Regions from separate parts of the Homo sapiens genome. Here region 1 is linked to region 2. The links come from fine-mapping of genetic effects on gene expression. A gene starts in region 2. The other region holds a variant in brackets. All regions are shown on one strand. Distances are between the middles of the regions. Region 1 overlaps MCF2L2 (MCF.2 cell line derived transforming sequence-like 2). Region 2 holds the start of B3GNT5 (UDP-GlcNAc:betaGal beta-1,3-N-acetylglucosaminyltransferase 5).

Region 1 (9,628 bases), 49 kb after region 2:
CATAGGGATTGATCTCAGCTAGAGGTCACTTAGGGAGATTTCTTTGTCTTGGTCCCCTTCAAATAATTTGTTCCTTTTGGTGTTTTTATTCAGGGAAATGAATTCTTATCTGCTTTAAGCAATCGAAGTTTTGAAAAATACCAGATAAAATGCCTCGCTCCCAGCTCATCTTGGTCCACTGTCTTTTGAAGAGAGCTCAGAGAAGGCAGGGTCATCTCATTTGGACTTTCAACCAGACATATGACAAAGGCAGCCTTGCTGGTGGAGACAGGGGCATCACAGTTTATGCCTAGAGTCAAACAGACTTCTTAAAAATCTGTCATTTGGTATTATCTTGGCACTGTTGACTCACTCTGAAAAACTCAGAGTTGAATGCAGTTACTATTTCCATTACAATGTTGTGAAGATTAGATCACAGTAAACTTTCTCTTTTCAGAACAAGCTTCATTTTCTCAGGTCCTCATATACCTGAAGCAGAAGTTAGGATGCAGATGGAACACACAGATGCTCATGGGTCCGCAATGCAGCCAAAATTCTATCTCTACTGGACATAATTGAAATGTTAATTTCTTGTCCCTTTGAAGGAGACTGTCATGTATCAAACATAGCACAGAGGAAATTGAATTCTGCTAGTTAAAATTGAGTCAAAAATATCACAGTCCCCGTATCTCTAGCTCAAGCATTTCTAACATTCTTTATGTATAGCATTACCTTTCATAGCTGAATTGATTTCCTTATATAACTAAATGGCACCACGCTCAGTGAAGCTCAAAAAATTGTCGTTTTGATTTAGTGACAGACCAGCCTGAATAGCACTTTTAGAATTGTAAACCTCAAAGAAGCATGCTTTATAAAATTTGAAAACAGGCCACAAAGGCTTCTTTCTCTGTCAAGTAATTTTACAGCTTCTTTTCCTGTATGTGTGTTTCCAAAAGGACGATATTGGAAAACTAGGCAAGCTGTTGCTGCACGGCCCTTTCAGCGTCTGGACAATTCACAAGGATCGTTATAAAATGAAGGATTTGATTCGATTTAAACCCAGCCAGAGGCAAATCTACCTATTTGAAAGGGGAATAGTGTTCTGTAAGATACGAATGGAGCCTGGGGACCAGGGATTATCTCCTCATTACAGCTTCAAGAAGACCATGAAGGTAAAGGGAGTCCTATTGCATCTGGGAGTCGCCCTATGCAGAAAAGAGAGAGATCGTTTTCCTTATTTTACAGATGAGGAAGCTGCAGTGTAGAGAGGTGAAGTTAACTTGCCAAATACCACACCACAGGGCTAGAATCCATAGCCGGGTCTGTCTGACTCCAGGGTCAGAGCTTATGGGCCAGGGCTGGCATAGGAGTGCCTTTGTACTAGAGAAAAAAGACTATATGGCAGCCAGTCTGGACAAACTAATTAGTAAAAGTACCCTCTTTCTTCCAGGCAAAGAGGTAAAAGAGAGTTGAAAGACTTAGTGATGAGAACATGGGCTGGATTTCATCTTAGACTTGTCCTTCTCAACGGTGTATCTTTGTGTCTAAGTGCAGGCATTGTCCTGACCTTGGGGTCTAAGGCACCCAGGCCCACACCAAGCATTGTTTTCTCACCTGTTTAGAAACTGTTTCATAGCCAGTTAGCTCTCAGGCTATGAAACACACACACCCACATACAGGAGCCACACCCATATATATTTATGCTGTTGTGATTAAAGCTGTTAATTTGTTCATAGTAGCCTTTGTTTTCTTTCTCCCCTTCCTTCCTTCCTTCCTCCCTCCCTTCCTTCCTCCCTCCCTCCCTCCCTTCCTTCCTTCCTTCCTTCCTTCCTTCCTTCCTTCCTTCCTTCCTTCCTTCCTTCCTTTCTTTCTTTCTGTCTTTCTTTCTTGTCTTTCTTTCTTTCTTTTCTTTCGACAGAGTTTTGCTCTTGTTGCCCAGGCTGGAGTGCAATGGCATGATCTTGGCTAACTGCAACCTCCACCTCCCGGGTTCAAGCAATTCTGCCTCAGCCTCCCAGGTAGCTGGGATTACAGGCACGCACCAGCATGCCCAGCTAATTTTGTATTTTTAGTAGAGACAGGGTTTCACCATGTTGGTCAGGCTGGTCTCGAACTCCTGACCTCAGGTGATCCGCCCACCTAGGCCTCCCAAAGTGCTGGAATTACAGGACTGATTACAGAGGCATGAGCCACCATACCTGGCCTTGTTATTTATGTTTCTGAATAGATCCTTATTCAGTTACTATTACGTAGAAAGTTGTAAAATACACGTTGAAGGAGAAATGATCTCTTCACTGAAAGGTTGAGGGCTGCAGCGCCTCCTGCATAAAGATACAGTAGAAAGTTAACAGTCTGTGTTACCTTCTGAAACAGATGAGACAGAAGACACTGTACCAGATTGTGTTTTATGCTGTCTTGGAGTCATTAAGAGAGGAAAGCAAAAACTTGAAAGGAAGATGAAAGAAGAGAGCTGTCAAGGATAGAAAGGATTAGAGTGATTGACAGGGACTATTTTAAAATCAGAAAACGATGGTATAGAACATTTCTCTTCCCTCTTTATAATAGCTGATGACACTTTCAATTCGCCAGCTTGGAAGGGGGAGCCATAGAAAGTTTGAGATTGCCAGTCGAAATGGACTTGAGAAATACATCCTGCAGGTAACGCTCATGCCTTCCCCATGGGTCTCCTCTACTCTTTCCTTATTGTGTTCCCATGACTTGACAAGTGTTTTCTATCTCATTAGTCTAACGGTCACTGGGAGAATAAAAACTCTGCAATTAATACTCATGGTAGTCTTATAGTGTTTTCTTATGTGTGATTGCAGGCAGCTTCAAAAGAAATCAGAGACTGTTGGTTTTCAGAAATAAGTAAATTATTGATGGAACAACAAAATAATATCAAAGGTAGGTTACCCCTGCTGACTTTCGTCTGTCGAGTTATACTGATTTCAGCTCAGTGGGGGATGTGCAAATTGGGGATATTGTGAAAGAAAATGGTTTGCTGGGAAAACAACTGTGGCCACATTTTCACAGTCCCTGGAAGCACCTATGCTTGATTTCCACTGTGGTGGAGGTGGAGGGGTTGTGTGATTGTGTGTGGTTGTGTTGGTTTGTCCCTTTTGGTTGTGTTCCCCCCACCACTTAATTGCCAAGGTCACCTTTAATCAAAAATCTGATGGCCACCCAAGAAAATGTTAACAGAGATTCAAATGGCCAATGCTACCTTTCAGACACTGTACTACTTTTTTTAAAACATCAAGATATAATTAACATGCCATCAAATTCACTGTCTAAAATATACAATTCAGTGGGTTTTAGATTATTCACAAGGCTCAATAACCATCCCCAGTCTAATTCTATTTTTTTACTTCTTACTTTTGTTTTTTGTTTTGTTTTGTTTTGAGATGGAGTTTTTGCTCTTGTCGCCCAGGCTGGAGTGCAGTGGCACCATCTGGGCTCACTGCAACCTCTGCCTCCCAGGTTCAAGTGATTCTCCTGCCTCAGCCTCCCGAATAGCTGGGACTACAGGCGCGCCAACACGCCTGGCTAATTTGTGTGTTTGTAGTAGAGACAGGGTGTCACCATGTTGGGCAGGATGGTCTTGATCTCCTGACCTTATGATCTGCCTGCCTCGGCCTCCCAAAGTGCTGGGATTACAGGTGTGAGCCACTGCGCCCAGCTGTTTTTTGTTTTAAAGTATTTAACAGCCTAATTCTAATTATACTTCCAAAATATTTTCATAACTCTCCCAACAAAAAAATTCTGTACCAATTAGCAATCATTCTCCATCTCTCACCTTTACCCAGCCCCTGGCAATCACTAATGTATTTCCTGTCTCTATTGGATGTTTTCTCTACACATCACATATATGGCCCTTTCTGTCTAGCTTCTTTCACTTTGCGTATTTTTTTAAGTTTCATTTATGTTGTAGTATCTATCAGTACTTCATACCTTTTTATGGCTGAGTAACAGTCCATTGTATGGATATACCATCTTTGTTTATCCATTCATTAGTTGATGAAGATTTGGG[G/T]TTTTTCCCCTTTTTGGATACTGTAAGTAAAGCTGCTGTAGATATTTTTGTACAGATTTTTGTATGAATCTTTATTTCCAGTTTTCTTTGGTGTATATATGTAGAATTGCCAGACCATATGGTAACTTTTGTTAACTTTCTGAGGAACTTCCAAATCATCTTTCAAAACAGTACCACCATTTCACATTCACACCAGCAATATAATAGTTGGGTTCAATTTTCTCCATTTCCTTACTAACACTTGTATTGTTCATTATAATAACATTATTATTATTATTATTATTATCATTGCCATCCTAGTGGGCATGTACTAGTATCTCATTGTGATTTTGATTTACATTTCCCTCATGGCTAGTGATGTTGAGCATCTTTTAACATGCATATTGGCCATTGGTATATCTTCTTTGTAGAAATGTCAGTTAACTCATTTGTATGTTTTTTAATTGGCTTGTCATTTTATGGTTGAATTGTAAGAGTTATTTATATATTCTGGATACTGGACTTTTATCAGATATATTATTTGCAAGTATTTTTTCCCATACTGTGCATTGTCTTTTTACTCTCTTGATAGTGTTCTTTGCAAAGAGTTTATAGTTTTAACTCTTACAGTTAAGCCTTTGACTCATTCCGAGTTAATTTTTGTATATGATGTGAATTAGGGGCCCAAGTTCCTTTTTTTACATGTGGATATCCATTGTCCTAGAACCATTGATTGAAAAGACTATTCTTTCCCCACTTTGAATGGTCTTGGCATCTTTGTTGAAGATAAATTGGCTTTAGGTATAGAATTCCTTGTTGACCCTCTTTTTCTTTAAGCACTTTGAATATGTCATCCCATTGCCTTCTCAACTCTGTGATTTCTGATAGAAATCAGCTGTTAATCTTATTGAAGAGTCCTTCTATGTGCTTGCTGCTTTCAAGATAATTTCATTGTCTTTGTTGACAGTTTGATTATGTTATCTCTAGGTGTGGATCTTGATCTCTTTGAATTTATATTTCTTGGAGTTTATAGACTTTCTTGAAGGTATAGATTAATGTTTTCATCAGATTTGGGAAATGTTCAGCCATTGCTTCTTTAAATATTATTTTAGCCCATTTATCCCTCTCTCCTTCTGAGACTGCCATTATGCGTCATTAGCGTGCTTGAAGGTATCTCACAGTCTCTGAGGCTCTATTCATTTTTCCTTCATTCCTCTTTCTTTCTCTTCCTCAGACTGGATAGATTCAATTGACCTATTTCTGAGTTCTCTAATTCTTTCTTCTGCCTGCTCAGATCTGCTATTGAGCCAGCCACTCTAGTGAATTTCTCATTCAATTATTATACTTTTGAAATCTAGAATTTCTGTTTCGTCCTTTAAAACAAATCTTTATATTTTCTATTTAATGAGGATTTGTTCTTGTGCTTTCCTTTAGTCTTTATATATGATTTCCTTTAACTTTTTGAACATGTAAAAATAGTTAAAGTATTGGTCTAGTAAAGTCAGTATCTTGGCTTCCTCAGGAACAGTTTTTTCTTTTTTCTTTTTTTTTCTTTTTTGAGACAGAGTCTTGCTCTGTAGCCCAGGCTGGAGTGCAATGGCATGATCTCAGCTCACTGCAACCTCCGCCTCCTGGGTTCAAGCAATTCTTCTGCCTCAGCCTCCCGAGTAGCTGGGATTACAGGTGCACGCCACCATGCCTGGCTAAATTTGTATTTTTCTTTTAGTAGAGATGGGGTTTCAACATGTTGGTCAGGCTGGTCTCAAACTCCTGACCTCTGGTGATCTGCCTGCCTTGGCCTCCCAAAGTGCTGGGATTACAGGCATGAGCCACTGCACCTGGCCTAGGAACAGTTTGTATTGACTGGTTTTTCTTTTTCCCTGGGTATGGACTGCATTTTCTTATTTCTTTACATGTCTCATTATTTTCTGTTAAAATTGCACATTTTAAATAACATAATGTAGCAACTCTGGAAATTGGACCTTCCCACCTCTACTGTTTGTTGGTGTTGCTGTTTATTGTTGTTTGTTATAGTGACTTTTCTAAACTAATTCTGTGAAGTCTGTATTTATGTGCAGCCATTGAAGCCTCTGTTCAGTTAGCTTAGTGATCTAAATACTAATGACATGACAGAGATTTCTTTAAACACCTGAAAGCAGTAAGTCTTCTAGTCTTTGCCAAGGGGCTCTGTGTGCACATTAGGGCACACCTTCACACTCAGCCTGGCACTTGACAGTTCTAGCCTAGCTTTCACTTTCTGTTTGTGCAGATCATCAAGATCAGCCAGAGGTAAGATCGTGGGGCCTTCGCAGATCTGTCCTGAACATGTTCACAGGAAATGTGTGCATGGTCTTCTAGAGTCTCATAAATATTTTGGAGCCTTTACAACCCTCTATGAGCATCTTATTCCTGAGCATTTCATTTTAAACCTTCTGATTAGCCCATGTTTGCCCCACTGTTAGCCAATACCTCGAGCAACCAAGAAGTTAAACAATTGCCTGTAATCATTTTCTACAAAGGCCTTTGGGGAAAAGACTTTTCACATTGGGCAAGTTCTGAGTCAGGCCTAATAAAGACAGACTTGCAGGTCAGGTATTCCTAGAAACCCGTGGACAGATCAAATAATGATAATTCTCTAAGAATGAGGCTCCATAGTTCCCCCATTCCTGTTCTGCCCCTCCCATGGCTGCCAGACTGCTGATTTTCACTATCATTGCAGGCTGTTCATTTCTAAGGCTACCACCAAGGAAGGGGAGGATAGAAATAGGGCAAGTTAAAAAGCTCATTAGTCATACTGAGACACAGCCATTTTCCTTGAATAAATGCTCTCCAGATTGCTGCAAGCCATCATTTAATTTCCAGTGTTCTCCGAAGACAAAAACCACATGATTATCTCAATAGATGCAGTAAAGGTCTTCAACAAAATTCAACAGCCCTTCATGCTAAAAACTCTCAATAAACTAGGTATTGATGGGACGTATCTCAAAATAATGAGAACTATTTATGACAAACCCACAGCCAATATCATACTGAATGGGCAAAAACTGGAAGTATTCCCTTTGAAACCTGGCAGAAGACAGGGATGCCCTCTCTCACCACTCCTACTCAACATAGTGTTGGAAGTTCTGGCCAGGGCAATCAGGCAGGAGAAAGAAATAAAGGGTATTGAATTAGGAAAAGAGAAAGTCAAATTGTCAAATTGCAGATGACATGATTGTATATTTAGAAAACCCCATCGTCTCAGCCCAAAATCTCCTTAAGCTGATAAGCAACTTCAGCAAAGTCTCAGTATACAAAATCAATGTGCAAAAATTACAAGCATTCCTATACACCAATAACAGACAAACAGAGAGCCAAATCATGAGTGAACTCCCATTCACAATTGCTTCAAAGAGAATAAAATACCTAGGAATCCAACTTACAAGGGATGTGAAGGACCTCTTCAAGGAGAACTACAAACCACTGCTCAACAAAATAAAAGAGGACACAAACCAATGGAAGAACATTCCATGCTCATGGATAGGAAGAATCAATATCGTGAAAATGGCCATACTGCCCAAGGTAATTTATAGATTCAATGCCATCCCCATCAAGCTACCAATGACTTTCTTCACAGAATTGGAAAAAAACTACTTTAAAGTTCATATGGAACCAAAAAAGAGCTTGCATTGTCAAGATAATCCTAAGCCAAAAGAACAAAGCTGGAGGCATCACGCTACCTGACTTCAAACTATACTACAAGGCTACAGTAATCAAAACAGCATGGTACTGGTACCAAAAACAGAGATATAGACCAATGGAACAGAACAGAGCCCTCAGAAATAATATCATACATCTACAACCATCTGATCTTTGACAAACCTGACAAAAACAAGAAATAGGGAAAGGATTCCCTATTTAATAAATAGTGCTGGGAAAACTGGCTAGCCATATGTAGAAAGCTGAAACTGGATCCCTTCCTTACACCTTATACAAAAATGAATTCAAGATGGATTAAAGACTTAAATGTTAGACCTAAAACCATAAAAACCCTAGAAGAAAACCTAGGCAATACCATTCAGGCCATAGGCATGGGCAAGGACTTCATGACTAAAACACCAAAAGCAATGGCAACAAAAGCCAAAATTGACAAGTGGGATCTAATTAAACTAAAGAGTTTCTGCGCAGCAAAAGAAACTACCATCAGAGTGAACAGGCAACTTACAGAATGGGAGAAAATGTTTACAATCTACCCATCTGACAAAGGGCTAATATCCAGAATCTACAAAGAACTTAAACAAATTTACAAGAAAAAAATCAACCCCATCAAAAAGTGGGCAAAAGATATGAACGGTCACTTCTCAAAAGAAGACATTTATGCAGCCAACAGACACATGAAAAAATGCTCATCATCACTGGCCATCAGAGAAATGCAAATCAAAACCACAATGAGATAACATCTCACACCAGTTAGAAAGGCAATCTTTAAAAAGTCAGGAAACAACAGGTGCTGGAGAGGATGTGGAGAAATAGGAACACTTTTACACTGTTGGTGGGACTGTAAATTAGTTCAACCATTGTGGAAGACAGTGTGGCGATTCCTCAAAGATCTAGAACTACAAATATCGTTTGACCCAGCCATCCCATTACTGGGTATATACCCAAAGGATTATAAATCATGCTGCTATAAAGATACATGCACACGTATGTTTATTGCAGCACTATTCACAATAGCAAAGACTTGGAACCAACCCAAATGTCCATCAATGATAGACTGGATTAAGAAAATGTGGCACATATACACCATGGAATACTATGCAGCCATAAAAAACAATGAGTTCATGTCCTTTGTAGGGACATGGTGAAGCTGGAAACCATCATTCTGAGCAAACTATCGCAAGGACAGAAAACCAAACACCGTGTGTTCTCACTCATAGGTGGGAACTGAACAATGAGAACACTTGGTCACAGGGTAGGGAACATCACACACCAGGGCCTGTGGTGGGGTGGGGGGAGGGGGAAGGGATAGATAGCATTAGGGGATATACATAATGCAAATGATGAGTTAATGGGTGCAGCACACCAACATGGCACATGTATACATATGTAACAAACCTGCATGTTGTGCACACGTACCCTAGAACTTAAAGTATAATAAAAAAAAAAAAAAGGAAAAAAAAATTTCGATATTCTGAAAATAAATTTTCTAACCATTTTTGGCCAGTTTTTTCCATGCTTTCACAAAGAAGAGAATTTGGGGACGGGTTTTTTCTCCACCATTTTCACTGATGTCACACACTGTACTCCTTTCAACAATTACAAATCATCTTTAAGCAGGCTTTATCCTTTCACTTTGTTTGCAGGGATATTTGGTGGGAAAATCCACAGCGAGCTTTATCAATTGAGTTCTGACCTTCCCCTCAGGTAATGTTACTAGGGTGAAGAAATGCCAGTTTCATGTGGAAAGTCTATCTTCCATCATTTATACTGGCAGTGGTTTGCATTTTGGGTAAGAAAAATCACATAAAAATGAAAAGATAACTTTTTTCTTTAGAGATAGCAGGAATGCAACTGGCTCACACTTTTTCTAGGTCTTCTATGATCATCAGCTGCTCAGGAACGTGCAAAGCTGGGTGTGCATCATAAGATAAGGGAAAAGGT
Region 2 (9,628 bases):
CGGAAAAAAGGAGATCAGAAAGTTTAGCTGTGGTTGAATAATAATAAGAAAAACCAGGATTCAGAAACAGGATGACGATATAACCCAGTGTCTGCCTGTTGCCCAGTGGCAGTTCCTACGTCCCATTCTGGACATTGTCTTTAGAAGCAACACTTGATAGAGGGTTTATAACACAGAGGTACAAAAAGTAGAAGATGGTGTAAAACAAGAGGTATATGTAACATGTTTCTGTCTTGGTGGATCAACATTTAGTCTAAGTTAACTACCATTTATTAAGTGCCTGCCCTATTCTAGGCATTACAGCGGGCAGCCCTGAAAGTAGGTTAATACGTATATTTAACTAATTCAACAAACATTAACTTATCACATACTGTGTAGTAGGCCATGGGCAGGATAGGATGCTAAAAAGACTTCAGAGATGTTTCAGGTGTAGCTCTTCTATCAAAGGGTCAATAAATATTCCAGTGCAAGCTGGAATCTGGACCTGATGGTGGTGAAAGAGAGTAAAAAAGCCGAGAGTGTTTAAATGCCAACAAAAGTAGATGTATACTGTGCCTCTCCATTTACTAGTCACATGAGCTCGACTTGTCTCTAAACCATGTACCAGTGTTTTCTCAGGATCATTTGAGATAACTTGTTGACAATGTCAGTCCAGATTAGATGTTCCATCTGTGCAAATTTCCTTTCTCTAGAATCTGTTTGTGTAGCTTTACCAGGATGGGTTAGTTAATGGATGGCTGATTTTTTTTTCAGGTTTTTTTCTTTTTAGAATACTGAGCTATACTCATAATATGCTTCTTCTCAAAAAACATTAATTAGGTAGGAGTTTTTAAAAATACTGATCTGATGGCTAAGGGCCATTTAACACATCGCAAATACTGTTGAGGCAGAAGTATCATCCCTAATTGACTGAATATGGTCCTTCTCATGTTCCCCATTATTCCATTAATGGAATAACGGTCTTCCGTTATTCTTGTTCCCACAAGCACTTAAAATACATTTCAATTAGGATGACACAGGTATAAGATTATATGGTCCTCTAAAGTAAGAGAAGGAAACTTGAGGTGAGTCCATCCTTGAACTTACTTTGCTTAGAGCACTATGAAAAAGTTATAGGAAGTTATAGGAAAGGAGCAAAAGAGTCAAATCTGAAATATTAGGTGGATCTTAGGCTGTAGAACAGTATTTTGAACTTGAACTTTTGGGCTTTGTTGCCTACACACTTGGTAGAACATTCTCTTTTGTAGAGAACTGGCTTCTAGTGTTAAAGCCTTCTATGGAAGAGAAATCTGAATAAGTTACATATCAAAGCCAGCAACTGAATTTGTAGAATTAAAATGTTTCTAAAAAATCGCTTTTTTATTCAAATCTTGTATCTCACCTGATCAAGTTTCTTATCCTTTAAATATAAAGATTCTTACATCCCCTATATATATGTAAACTAATACATAATAATTAGATATTGCATACCGTAAGGAAAGTAATTCTAGATTTACACTGTTCTGGTTACATCTTCGCTCACAGAGATTCGATATCAAAGGGCAGAGCTCTTGTAATTTACTGTGCCTCAGTTTCTGGAACACAGATACAATGAATTCCTCTCCTTACAAGGTTATTCTAACAATGCATTAAAATAATGGCTATGGAAATATTTCAGAAAAGGCATAATGTATTATAAAAATTCAAAGCTGAGATCTATTTACTTCAGCATATATAAAATTCCCCCTGAATAGGGGACATTTTGTTACTCTGAGAAGAGACAATTTCCCTCTGAATTTCTCCCAGTTTCTTCCTGATACCTCCTGTGTTCTGAAATGCAGATTCTAGTGCAATTGGGCCTCAGAAAGAACTGGACCCTTTACAATGTGAAAGTCACCAAGTGCAATGATTCTAGCCAAAGTGACCCATTTTAAAAGATGACCCATTTCAAAACCCATGAGTTATTATTCAAGCTGTTCTATTTTTGAGAATTAGAAAGTTTTCTTTTTCTTTTTTTTTTTTTTTACAATCTCACCATTTGAATGTCTTTTATGAAAAGAGAAAACTGATCACCATTTTAATGAAATACAATGTTTCATTTTTTACTTGATGGGGCCTGCACTTTATTTTGAAAACTCTTCTGCACCTTCTGAGTTTTCTCTGGGCAGAGCAGTTATAAGCATCTCTACCTCCTACTCATCCTCATCTCCCACTTTCTCAGGAACAGCTGCTCTGAGCTTTGGCTTGGGCCTTTCCTGTGATAACACTGGTTCTACCTTAGAGCCTTGCAGGGCCGGGAAGGGTCAGCCTGAGTCAGCCTCCTCCTCAGAGTGCTCAGTCAATGCTCAGAGCGTGTGCGGGAGGATAAGGAAGAGTGAGAAGGACAAGCAGGTTAAGTACAGAATGGAAACCTTTCTGGTATTGCGTTTAGCTTGCTTTAAAAGCAAAGAGTTGGCCCCAAAAAGCAGCTTTCACCTCCTCACTTGTGACCAGATAGAAAATCTACCATAAATTTATTTTGAGAAAGTTATAACGTCTGCTGCTGATCACTAATCACCCTTTCAGAAAGTTCAGGGTGGAATCATTTCGGTGCCACCACTTAATACAACTACCTTCAATCATCCTTTTCTGGGTCAACTTCGGCTTTTCACATTCCTCTCCCATCCCCCACAGGGAACAGGCAAGGTTTCCCAAAATAAAGGCACAGACGCACAAATCCAATTCTGATGGATGTACTTTCATCAGATAATTACCATAAATATGAGCCTCAGGCCACCATCGGCCACTGTGCGGTTACCACATCGGTGTACCTTTAACATGATCCATAACCTAAGAAAACCAACACCGGCCAAGAATGTACAGGGTGTAGTCAAGAGTCGAGTTGAAAACTGTTACTTTTACCTATATGGTATCCAAGCAAGCAATTGCCTCTGTCACATCAGGATTCAAAATGAAATGAGGCAGAGTCAAAGGAAAGAGTGGCCACGACCTCCCCGCCAGGGAGATCTGCGGCTGCAGTCTCCCCGCCTGCCCACTTCCCTGTCCCCATTTCCCCCGCCAGTAACTCGCCGAAAGCGTTCTCAGGTTGGCGGTTTCTTCTTTCCAGCCCGACACGGGCTTTCGACTCGAATTCAGCCCTCCAGCCGGAGGCGGGTGGCCGCAAGCCTGGGGCCCCCGGCCGGCAACCGAATTGGTGGGCGCGGCGTTCGCCTCGCGGCTCCCGCGCACGGGCCTGTCCCGCCACCGAGGAGCCGGAGCTCCTCAGGGACGGGGACCCGCAGGCCCCGGGAAGCCGCCCCAACCGGAGCTGCCCGGCCCCCGAGCCTACCTGCCGCACCTGGGCGGCGGCCCGGCCTGGGTCCCAGCCGCTGGCCACCCGCGCGGGCAGGCCGGAGGGAACAAAGGCGTTCCGGGGAGGGGACGAGCCTCCTTCTCCGCCGCGCTTTCAGAGGGCGGGCTGCCGGGGCCCGCGGTGGGAGAGGCCTCCCCGGCTTCCCGACTTCCCGGCGCTGGGCCGTGCGCGGTCCGGGCCAGGGCGGCGGGCCCCGATCCGGTGTCCACGCCAGCCACGCGCCCCCGGCCCAAGCGCGCGTTCCCACCTGAAGTCCTGGCGCCACCCGCCGGGCGAGGGCCGGCGTGCCCTCACCTCCTCGCCACTCTTCTCCTCCAGAGACCTCGCTCGGCCCGGAGTGGGCAGACTCGGAGCCTCCCGCGCCGGAGACCGCGAGCCGCTCGGCCGAGGAGGCGCGGCGGGGCGGGGGCGGGGCGGAGGGGCCGGCCCGCAGCCCCCAATGCCGGGAGCCCGCGCTGGAGACCCAGGGAGCCCAGCTCGGGGCCGCGGCACGGAGAACGAACCATCCGTGGCCTGGAGACGTATCCCGCCGAGCGGCCAGAACTTTCCCCATTTAGCGATCCGGAAAGGAAGCCAACACTCCCACCCAGAGAGGCCTCGGCCGCGGAAAGATGCGGCCGCGGCACAGCCGTGTTTTCACCACGTAACTGACCACAGACTAACTCCGCGCGGAACCACCGGCCCAGGGCGCTCCGCCAAGAGGCGGACTGTGCTGGCCTCGCGGGCCCTACGCCCAGGGAACGCCGCGGTTCCTCCCACACGGGACACCGGTTCCGCAGCGCCGCGGATTAGGATGGTCTTTTACTTTCCGAGCGGGAGCTCTAACGCAGGCTCAGGCGGGTCTTGTTAAAAGGTTTCTGGTCACACCACTTATGCGTGGAGCTCTGGGGGCCTCAGTAACAAAGTAAGGAAACTTACAGCAAACTAGGGCTGCACTGCCGCTGTCCGTTTCTAAAATACGAGAAGAGGGGGAAACCCCGCCCCAGGCCAGCTTCCCAGTGACTTTACCTCCAAGTCCAGCTTCATTTCAAGGGCAGTTTAGAGCGAAACTCACGAAGTTCAAGCCCAGCTCTTTAAATGTCCAAATCGGAGGTCGGCTTTCCTTCCCGCATCGGAGCTAAAGTCGCTGGTCTCAAGAACAAAACTTGCGGGCTTTAAATCTTGGGCGAGGACTGGACGGGCAGCGCTGGACTGGGCTCGCTTCCCCGGCGGGATGCGGGCTGTATGCGGGCGGGATGGGGGCGGGCCCGGGCGGGGGCGCGAGGCTCCCAGCCGCGCGCCCCGCACTCTCGGCGTCACGGCCCGAGCCCGGCCCCGCCCGCCAGCCGCCACCCTCCCGGCGCGTAGGTGAAGGTGATGGGCCCCGCCCCAGTTTGTTCTTGTCTGTAGATGAGAATTCCAGGAAGTGTTTCCCTGCCGCTCGTCAGTTAATTGCGATCACTTACTCAAATGGCCAACTGGAAGCCAGAGTGCACATGAATGTCCTCTTTGAGCTATTTTCCTCCTTTAGAATACTTCATGCAGGTAACCAGACAATATCGAGAGATGCGGACTTCTACTCAACGAGAGAGATTATAAATGAATCCTGGATGCGCTTGATTTCTTGTTTCCCGCATGTTGTTAGACCTCTCCCTAAAGCCACAAAACATTTAACGGAGATAATATTTTGAGCGATTCTGTTATTGTACATATTTCAGAACATGACAGAAAAGCAAAAGATTAACCCAAATACTTTAGTAAAATAAAAGCTTTGAGTTTGTCGTAAAAGGAACAAGACAGGTAATGAGTTAAATGTATGATTGTCGAATCAGGGTTTAAAACAGTGGGGCCAGCAGACACGGTGGCTCACACCTGTAATCCCATCACTTTGGGAGGCTGAGCCGCAGGAGGATTGCTTGATCCCAGGAGTTAGAGACCAGCGTGGCCAACATAGCAAGACCCCATCTCTAAAAGAAAAAACACACACACAAAATGAAAACTGTTGTTCATTCAAACTAGATTTTTAGGAAGTTTTTAAATTGCTTTCCTTAAGCTGGTCAGCATCTTTTAAATCATGCAGTTCTTTTCATATGCTGCCTACACAGGGCATGGCTCAGCATCTCCCAGACTGTGGCACTGCATGTTCATCAGACCACAGACAGAAATATTTACATGTGTGATTTGCAAAGGAGTCATTGACAGTGACCCACAAATAAGCTGATTCATTGTTAATACAGCACTAATGACATACCTTCTCTAATAAAATGCTGACTGAAATCCCACATGCATTTCCCCCAGCCATCACATGTGTATGTTGTATATCTGTGCAAATATTCAATTACAATTATATTCCTTTCAGATCATTTGGAGCTAGGTCCATGTGTCAGTATACATATGTTCCACATACATGAGCACATAGAACTGTACCCACGAGAAATACAAACTGACCAAAACAGTGGTAGACACACATACAAATCACATATTCACATCATACTAGATACAGATAAACACACCAGATAGATAAATGGTTTCAAAAGTATGTCTGGAGATTGGAAATACGATGCAAGTTTTTTGGTGGTAGGAGGGAGAGATGAGAGGGTGTGAAGGAGAGATAGGCAAGGTCAAGTAGTCCAGAATGCCCACTCTGGGATCCACACAAGCTCAGATCACACATGCGAGAGGACAGGCAAGTCCCCTTTGCTTGTTAGGGAAGATTTCCTAGAGCAGCCTGGCTTCCTGTCCCACCCAGAGAGAGGGGAAGAGAATGACAGATTTGATGGTATTGATGGTGCTATGCTCAGTTACTTTTATCAAGAGGGAGTGCATGAAGATATTGAGATGTGTTAGAAATAAACTTAGGTAATAATAATGATGCTGACTTGGCCAGCATGAAGAAGGAGGACCGTGTTGGCATGCTTTCCTTATCCAAGTAGCAGCTGGTAAGCAGAGAGCCCTGTGATTAGATCTATACATGACTTTGGAATGACCAAAATCTGCATGTTAGACTCGGCAGGGATAGATAAGGCACAGAAAGAGCAGAGGAGTAGCAGATTTAGGAGAGATGATCAGAGAGTAAGGCACATGCATCATTAGTAGTGGGGAGGGGAGACTAAACCCTGAGTACAAGAGAACCTGGGAGATGGTGGGAGCAACAGGGGCCCAAGGAAGAGGCCTGTGTTACTAAAATCATGAAAGGAGAAGCAGGTCTGATAACCGAGTGGCTTAACACAGCTGAAGTGTAGCAGCAGTATCAGGCTTGACCTGTTTAGCGAAATTTGTCTTTCTGGATTCTGTTAGACCAGATTTCCTCACAGGCCCTATAGGGAACCTGTCCAGTGAATCTGTGAATTCAAACACATCACGGGCCATGTATTCTGAAGCAGGCCGGTGTTCATTCAAGGCCTGGGCTGTTAGAGAGACTCTGGTTGTTTCCTGACCTGGCTTCCTACACAGGATCTCTGGCAAGTTAGCAAACTTCTCTGTGCCCACAGTAATACCTGCCTGCAAGGGTGGGTGAGGATTAGTGCAATCGCAGTGACGGGTGGAGTGCTGAGCTCAGAGCCTGGGCTATCCCAATGGGCGGATGAATGGTCAGCATCCTTGAGCCCATCACAGGTTGCAGAAAGCTCCTCTCACCTGGCAGAGGTAGGCTCATGCTGTGTCCTGTCATCGTGCTGTAAAGGATCTGCTGTGTTTCACACCTCTGGGAATTTCACATCTGTTGATACAGCATCACCATTCAGACGATGCCCTATCTCCTTGGCTCCGCCGCCTCTTTCTCTGCCCCCCGGCCACCTCCCACCACACGCAGCCTTCCTTGGTGTTCTCTTCTCCGCACACATGCTCCTTGCTGATCTCACCCATTGTCTTTAATCTTGACTTACATTTCTTTCTTTTTTTTTTTTTTCTTTTTTTGAAACGAAGTATCGCTCTGTCACCCAGGCTGGAGTGCAGTGGCACGATCTCCTTTCACTGTAACCTCTGCCTCCCGGGTTCAAGTGACTCTCCTGCCTCAGCCTCCCGAGTAGCTGGGATTACAGTCATGCACCACCACACCTGGCTAATTTTTTATATTTTTGGTGGAGATGGGGTTTCACCATGTTGGCCAGGCAGGTCTTGAACTCCTGACTTCAAGTGATCCGCCCGCCTCGGCCTCCCAAAGTGCTGGGACTACAGGCGTGAACCACCGCTCCCAGCCCATCCTGATTTATATTTCTAGCCCAGATTCTCAGCTTCAACCTTAAGTGTCTTTGGGTATGTCACATCAATCTTCAGCTTAATATGTCTAAAATGGGATGTATAAATATGGGATTGGGAAATGGTTAATGGACAGGACTTGAATGCCCCAAAAGCAAGAATCCTCCTTTTTCTCACCAGTGACCCAGCCCAGGCTGTTATGTGTCAGTAACAGTCAGTAGTATTTTGTCACTGTATAAGTTATATGTCTTTTGCCTCAACTAGCTGTGGGGAGGGGAAAAAAGTTGTATGTCTGTTTTCCCAACTACTTTGAAAGTCTTCAGATCTCTTGTGGGTGGACACCATGCCCTGCTCTTCTCTGAGTCTCTCAGAGACTCCCCGTCTCCTTGCCACCCTCACAATAATGCCTGTCACAGAATGAATGCCTGGTAACTGCAGGTTGAATTGAATTTTTGCATAGCACTTCCACACTCATCAATTATTCAAACTTTTGTTCCAAGAATCCCATCCGTAGTACAGTGGCCCTGTGTACGTCTCCTTTGATGCCACCAAGGCCCAAAAGCTGACGCTGGAGACACACTAGCTCTTTGCTGCAGCTCCTGCTACTGCTTCTATGGCCTGGCACCCTTCAGCATCCTCCCTCAATTCCAGGGCCTCAGCAGTTTGATGAAACCACACTAGGTACACCCAGAACTGGAAGGTGAAGGGAACTGACAGCACAAGGCGGCACTCACCCGCAGGCCACTCTGAGAACCCGGTTTCTTCCATTTTCTTCTCTTCTGCATGGGGGAGGGGCCTCCTGGAACTGATCATCTCCTTCACACCAACGCATAAGGAAATCTCTTATGTGCCATCTGACACTCAGTGGGGCCTCTCAGGGACAGGGACAGGGACAGTTTCGGAGGGGCAGGCCCTGCTGGCTGGGACCCTCCCTGGTCCAGTAGAGCTGTGCTGTCAACCCTCCAACAGCCCCTGTGAAAATGGCCTGATACCAGCCCCTGGCAGTGAGTGTCTCAGCATTTCTTCTCCTTTTCCCAGCAGCAGATCAGACACACACTCCACACTCCCGGAAGCATACAGGGTTCTGTGCAGGTCCCAGAGGGCTGCCTCTAACTCAGCTCTTTCTCTCCTACTCAGGAGGGCACATGCAAATTGAGTGAGGGAGTGACATTTTTGTAGGAACAATCTTGAGTGCTGATTAACACATATTTTAAAAGACAATTGGCACTTAGTTTAGTCACAGCTATCTAAACTAAGCAAAACAATTTGTGTCCTGTGATGGGGTGGTACAGGGGGAAGGAAGACAATTACAGCCCCTGGAAATGATTATTGACAGCAAGATGGGGGCTACATGGCTGGCCCAGAGGCGATCATTTGTGTTGGGAATTTTGCACTTAGGTTTGGTTGTACTGATATTTATGGAACAACTAAAATGTAATTTTCTTTTTTTAAAAATATACATTTTTTTTGAGACAGGGTCTCGCTGTGTTGCTCAGGCTGGAATACAATGGCCGGTCACTGCTCACTCAGGCTTGACCTTCTAGGCTCAAGCAATCTTCCTGTCTCAGCCTCCTGAGTAGTGGGGACTACAGGTGCACCCCATCACGCCCAAATAATTTTTTTTATTTTTAGTAGAAATGGAGTTGCTCACTATGTTGCCCAGGCTGGTCTTGAACTCCTGGGCTCAAGCGATCCACCTGCCTCCACCTGCCAAAGTGTTAGGATTACAGGTATGAGCCACTGCACCAGGTCTGAAATGTAATTTTCTATTTCCCATTTTTAAATACTTAGTAATTACTAAGTGATAATTTCCTGCTTTACAGAGAGTACACGGTTCAAATCCCACTCAACCAATTTCCAAAAGGCAGTTAAAAGTCTTCCTAGGGTTTACATTGAGTACTCTTTAATACAAGTAGACTATTAGATAAAACTTGCTATGCTGAGATTTTCCTTATAGCAGTACTTCTAAAAAGCCAATTCTAAAGTCTATGATAAATTAATGTGATCTGAAACCATATACATTTAATGAATCAGTCTTGGTGGTCAGATGGTCCAAAGTTGTAAAGCCCAATATTAATACCTAATTGGCTCTGCAGATTTAGGGCTAAGGAATCCTAGGAA

Evidence for each region. PIP is the estimated chance that this variant, and not a neighbour inherited with it, causes the effect. A credible set is the group of variants that fine-mapping cannot tell apart.
Region 1: its variant is the best candidate, but not a certain one, in a credible set for the expression of B3GNT5 in whole blood (TOPMed, PIP 0.89).

The regions. Positions count from the first base shown.
Region 1 is chr3:183,199,131-183,208,758 of GRCh38, reverse strand. MCF2L2 (MCF.2 cell line derived transforming sequence-like 2) reads left to right here. Exons shown (of 30, transcript NM_015078.4): 23 at 936-1,151; 24 at 2,545-2,637; 25 at 2,805-2,883. Among named protein-coding and RNA genes, the nearest start is that of LAMP3, 41 kb to the right of the region's middle. The variant G/T (reference allele first, on the strand shown) is at 4,010.
Region 2 is chr3:183,248,184-183,257,811 of GRCh38, reverse strand. It overlaps B3GNT5 (UDP-GlcNAc:betaGal beta-1,3-N-acetylglucosaminyltransferase 5), which reads right to left and starts at 4,559. Exons shown (of 2, transcript NM_032047.5): 1 at 4,340-4,559. All of the region lies in intron 15 of MCF2L2 (MCF.2 cell line derived transforming sequence-like 2), which reads left to right. It overlaps LOC124906310 (a long non-coding RNA gene), which reads right to left and starts at 8,595. Exons shown (of 3, transcript XR_007096189.1): 1 at 8,242-8,595; 2 at 6,947-7,028; 3 at 5,257-5,277.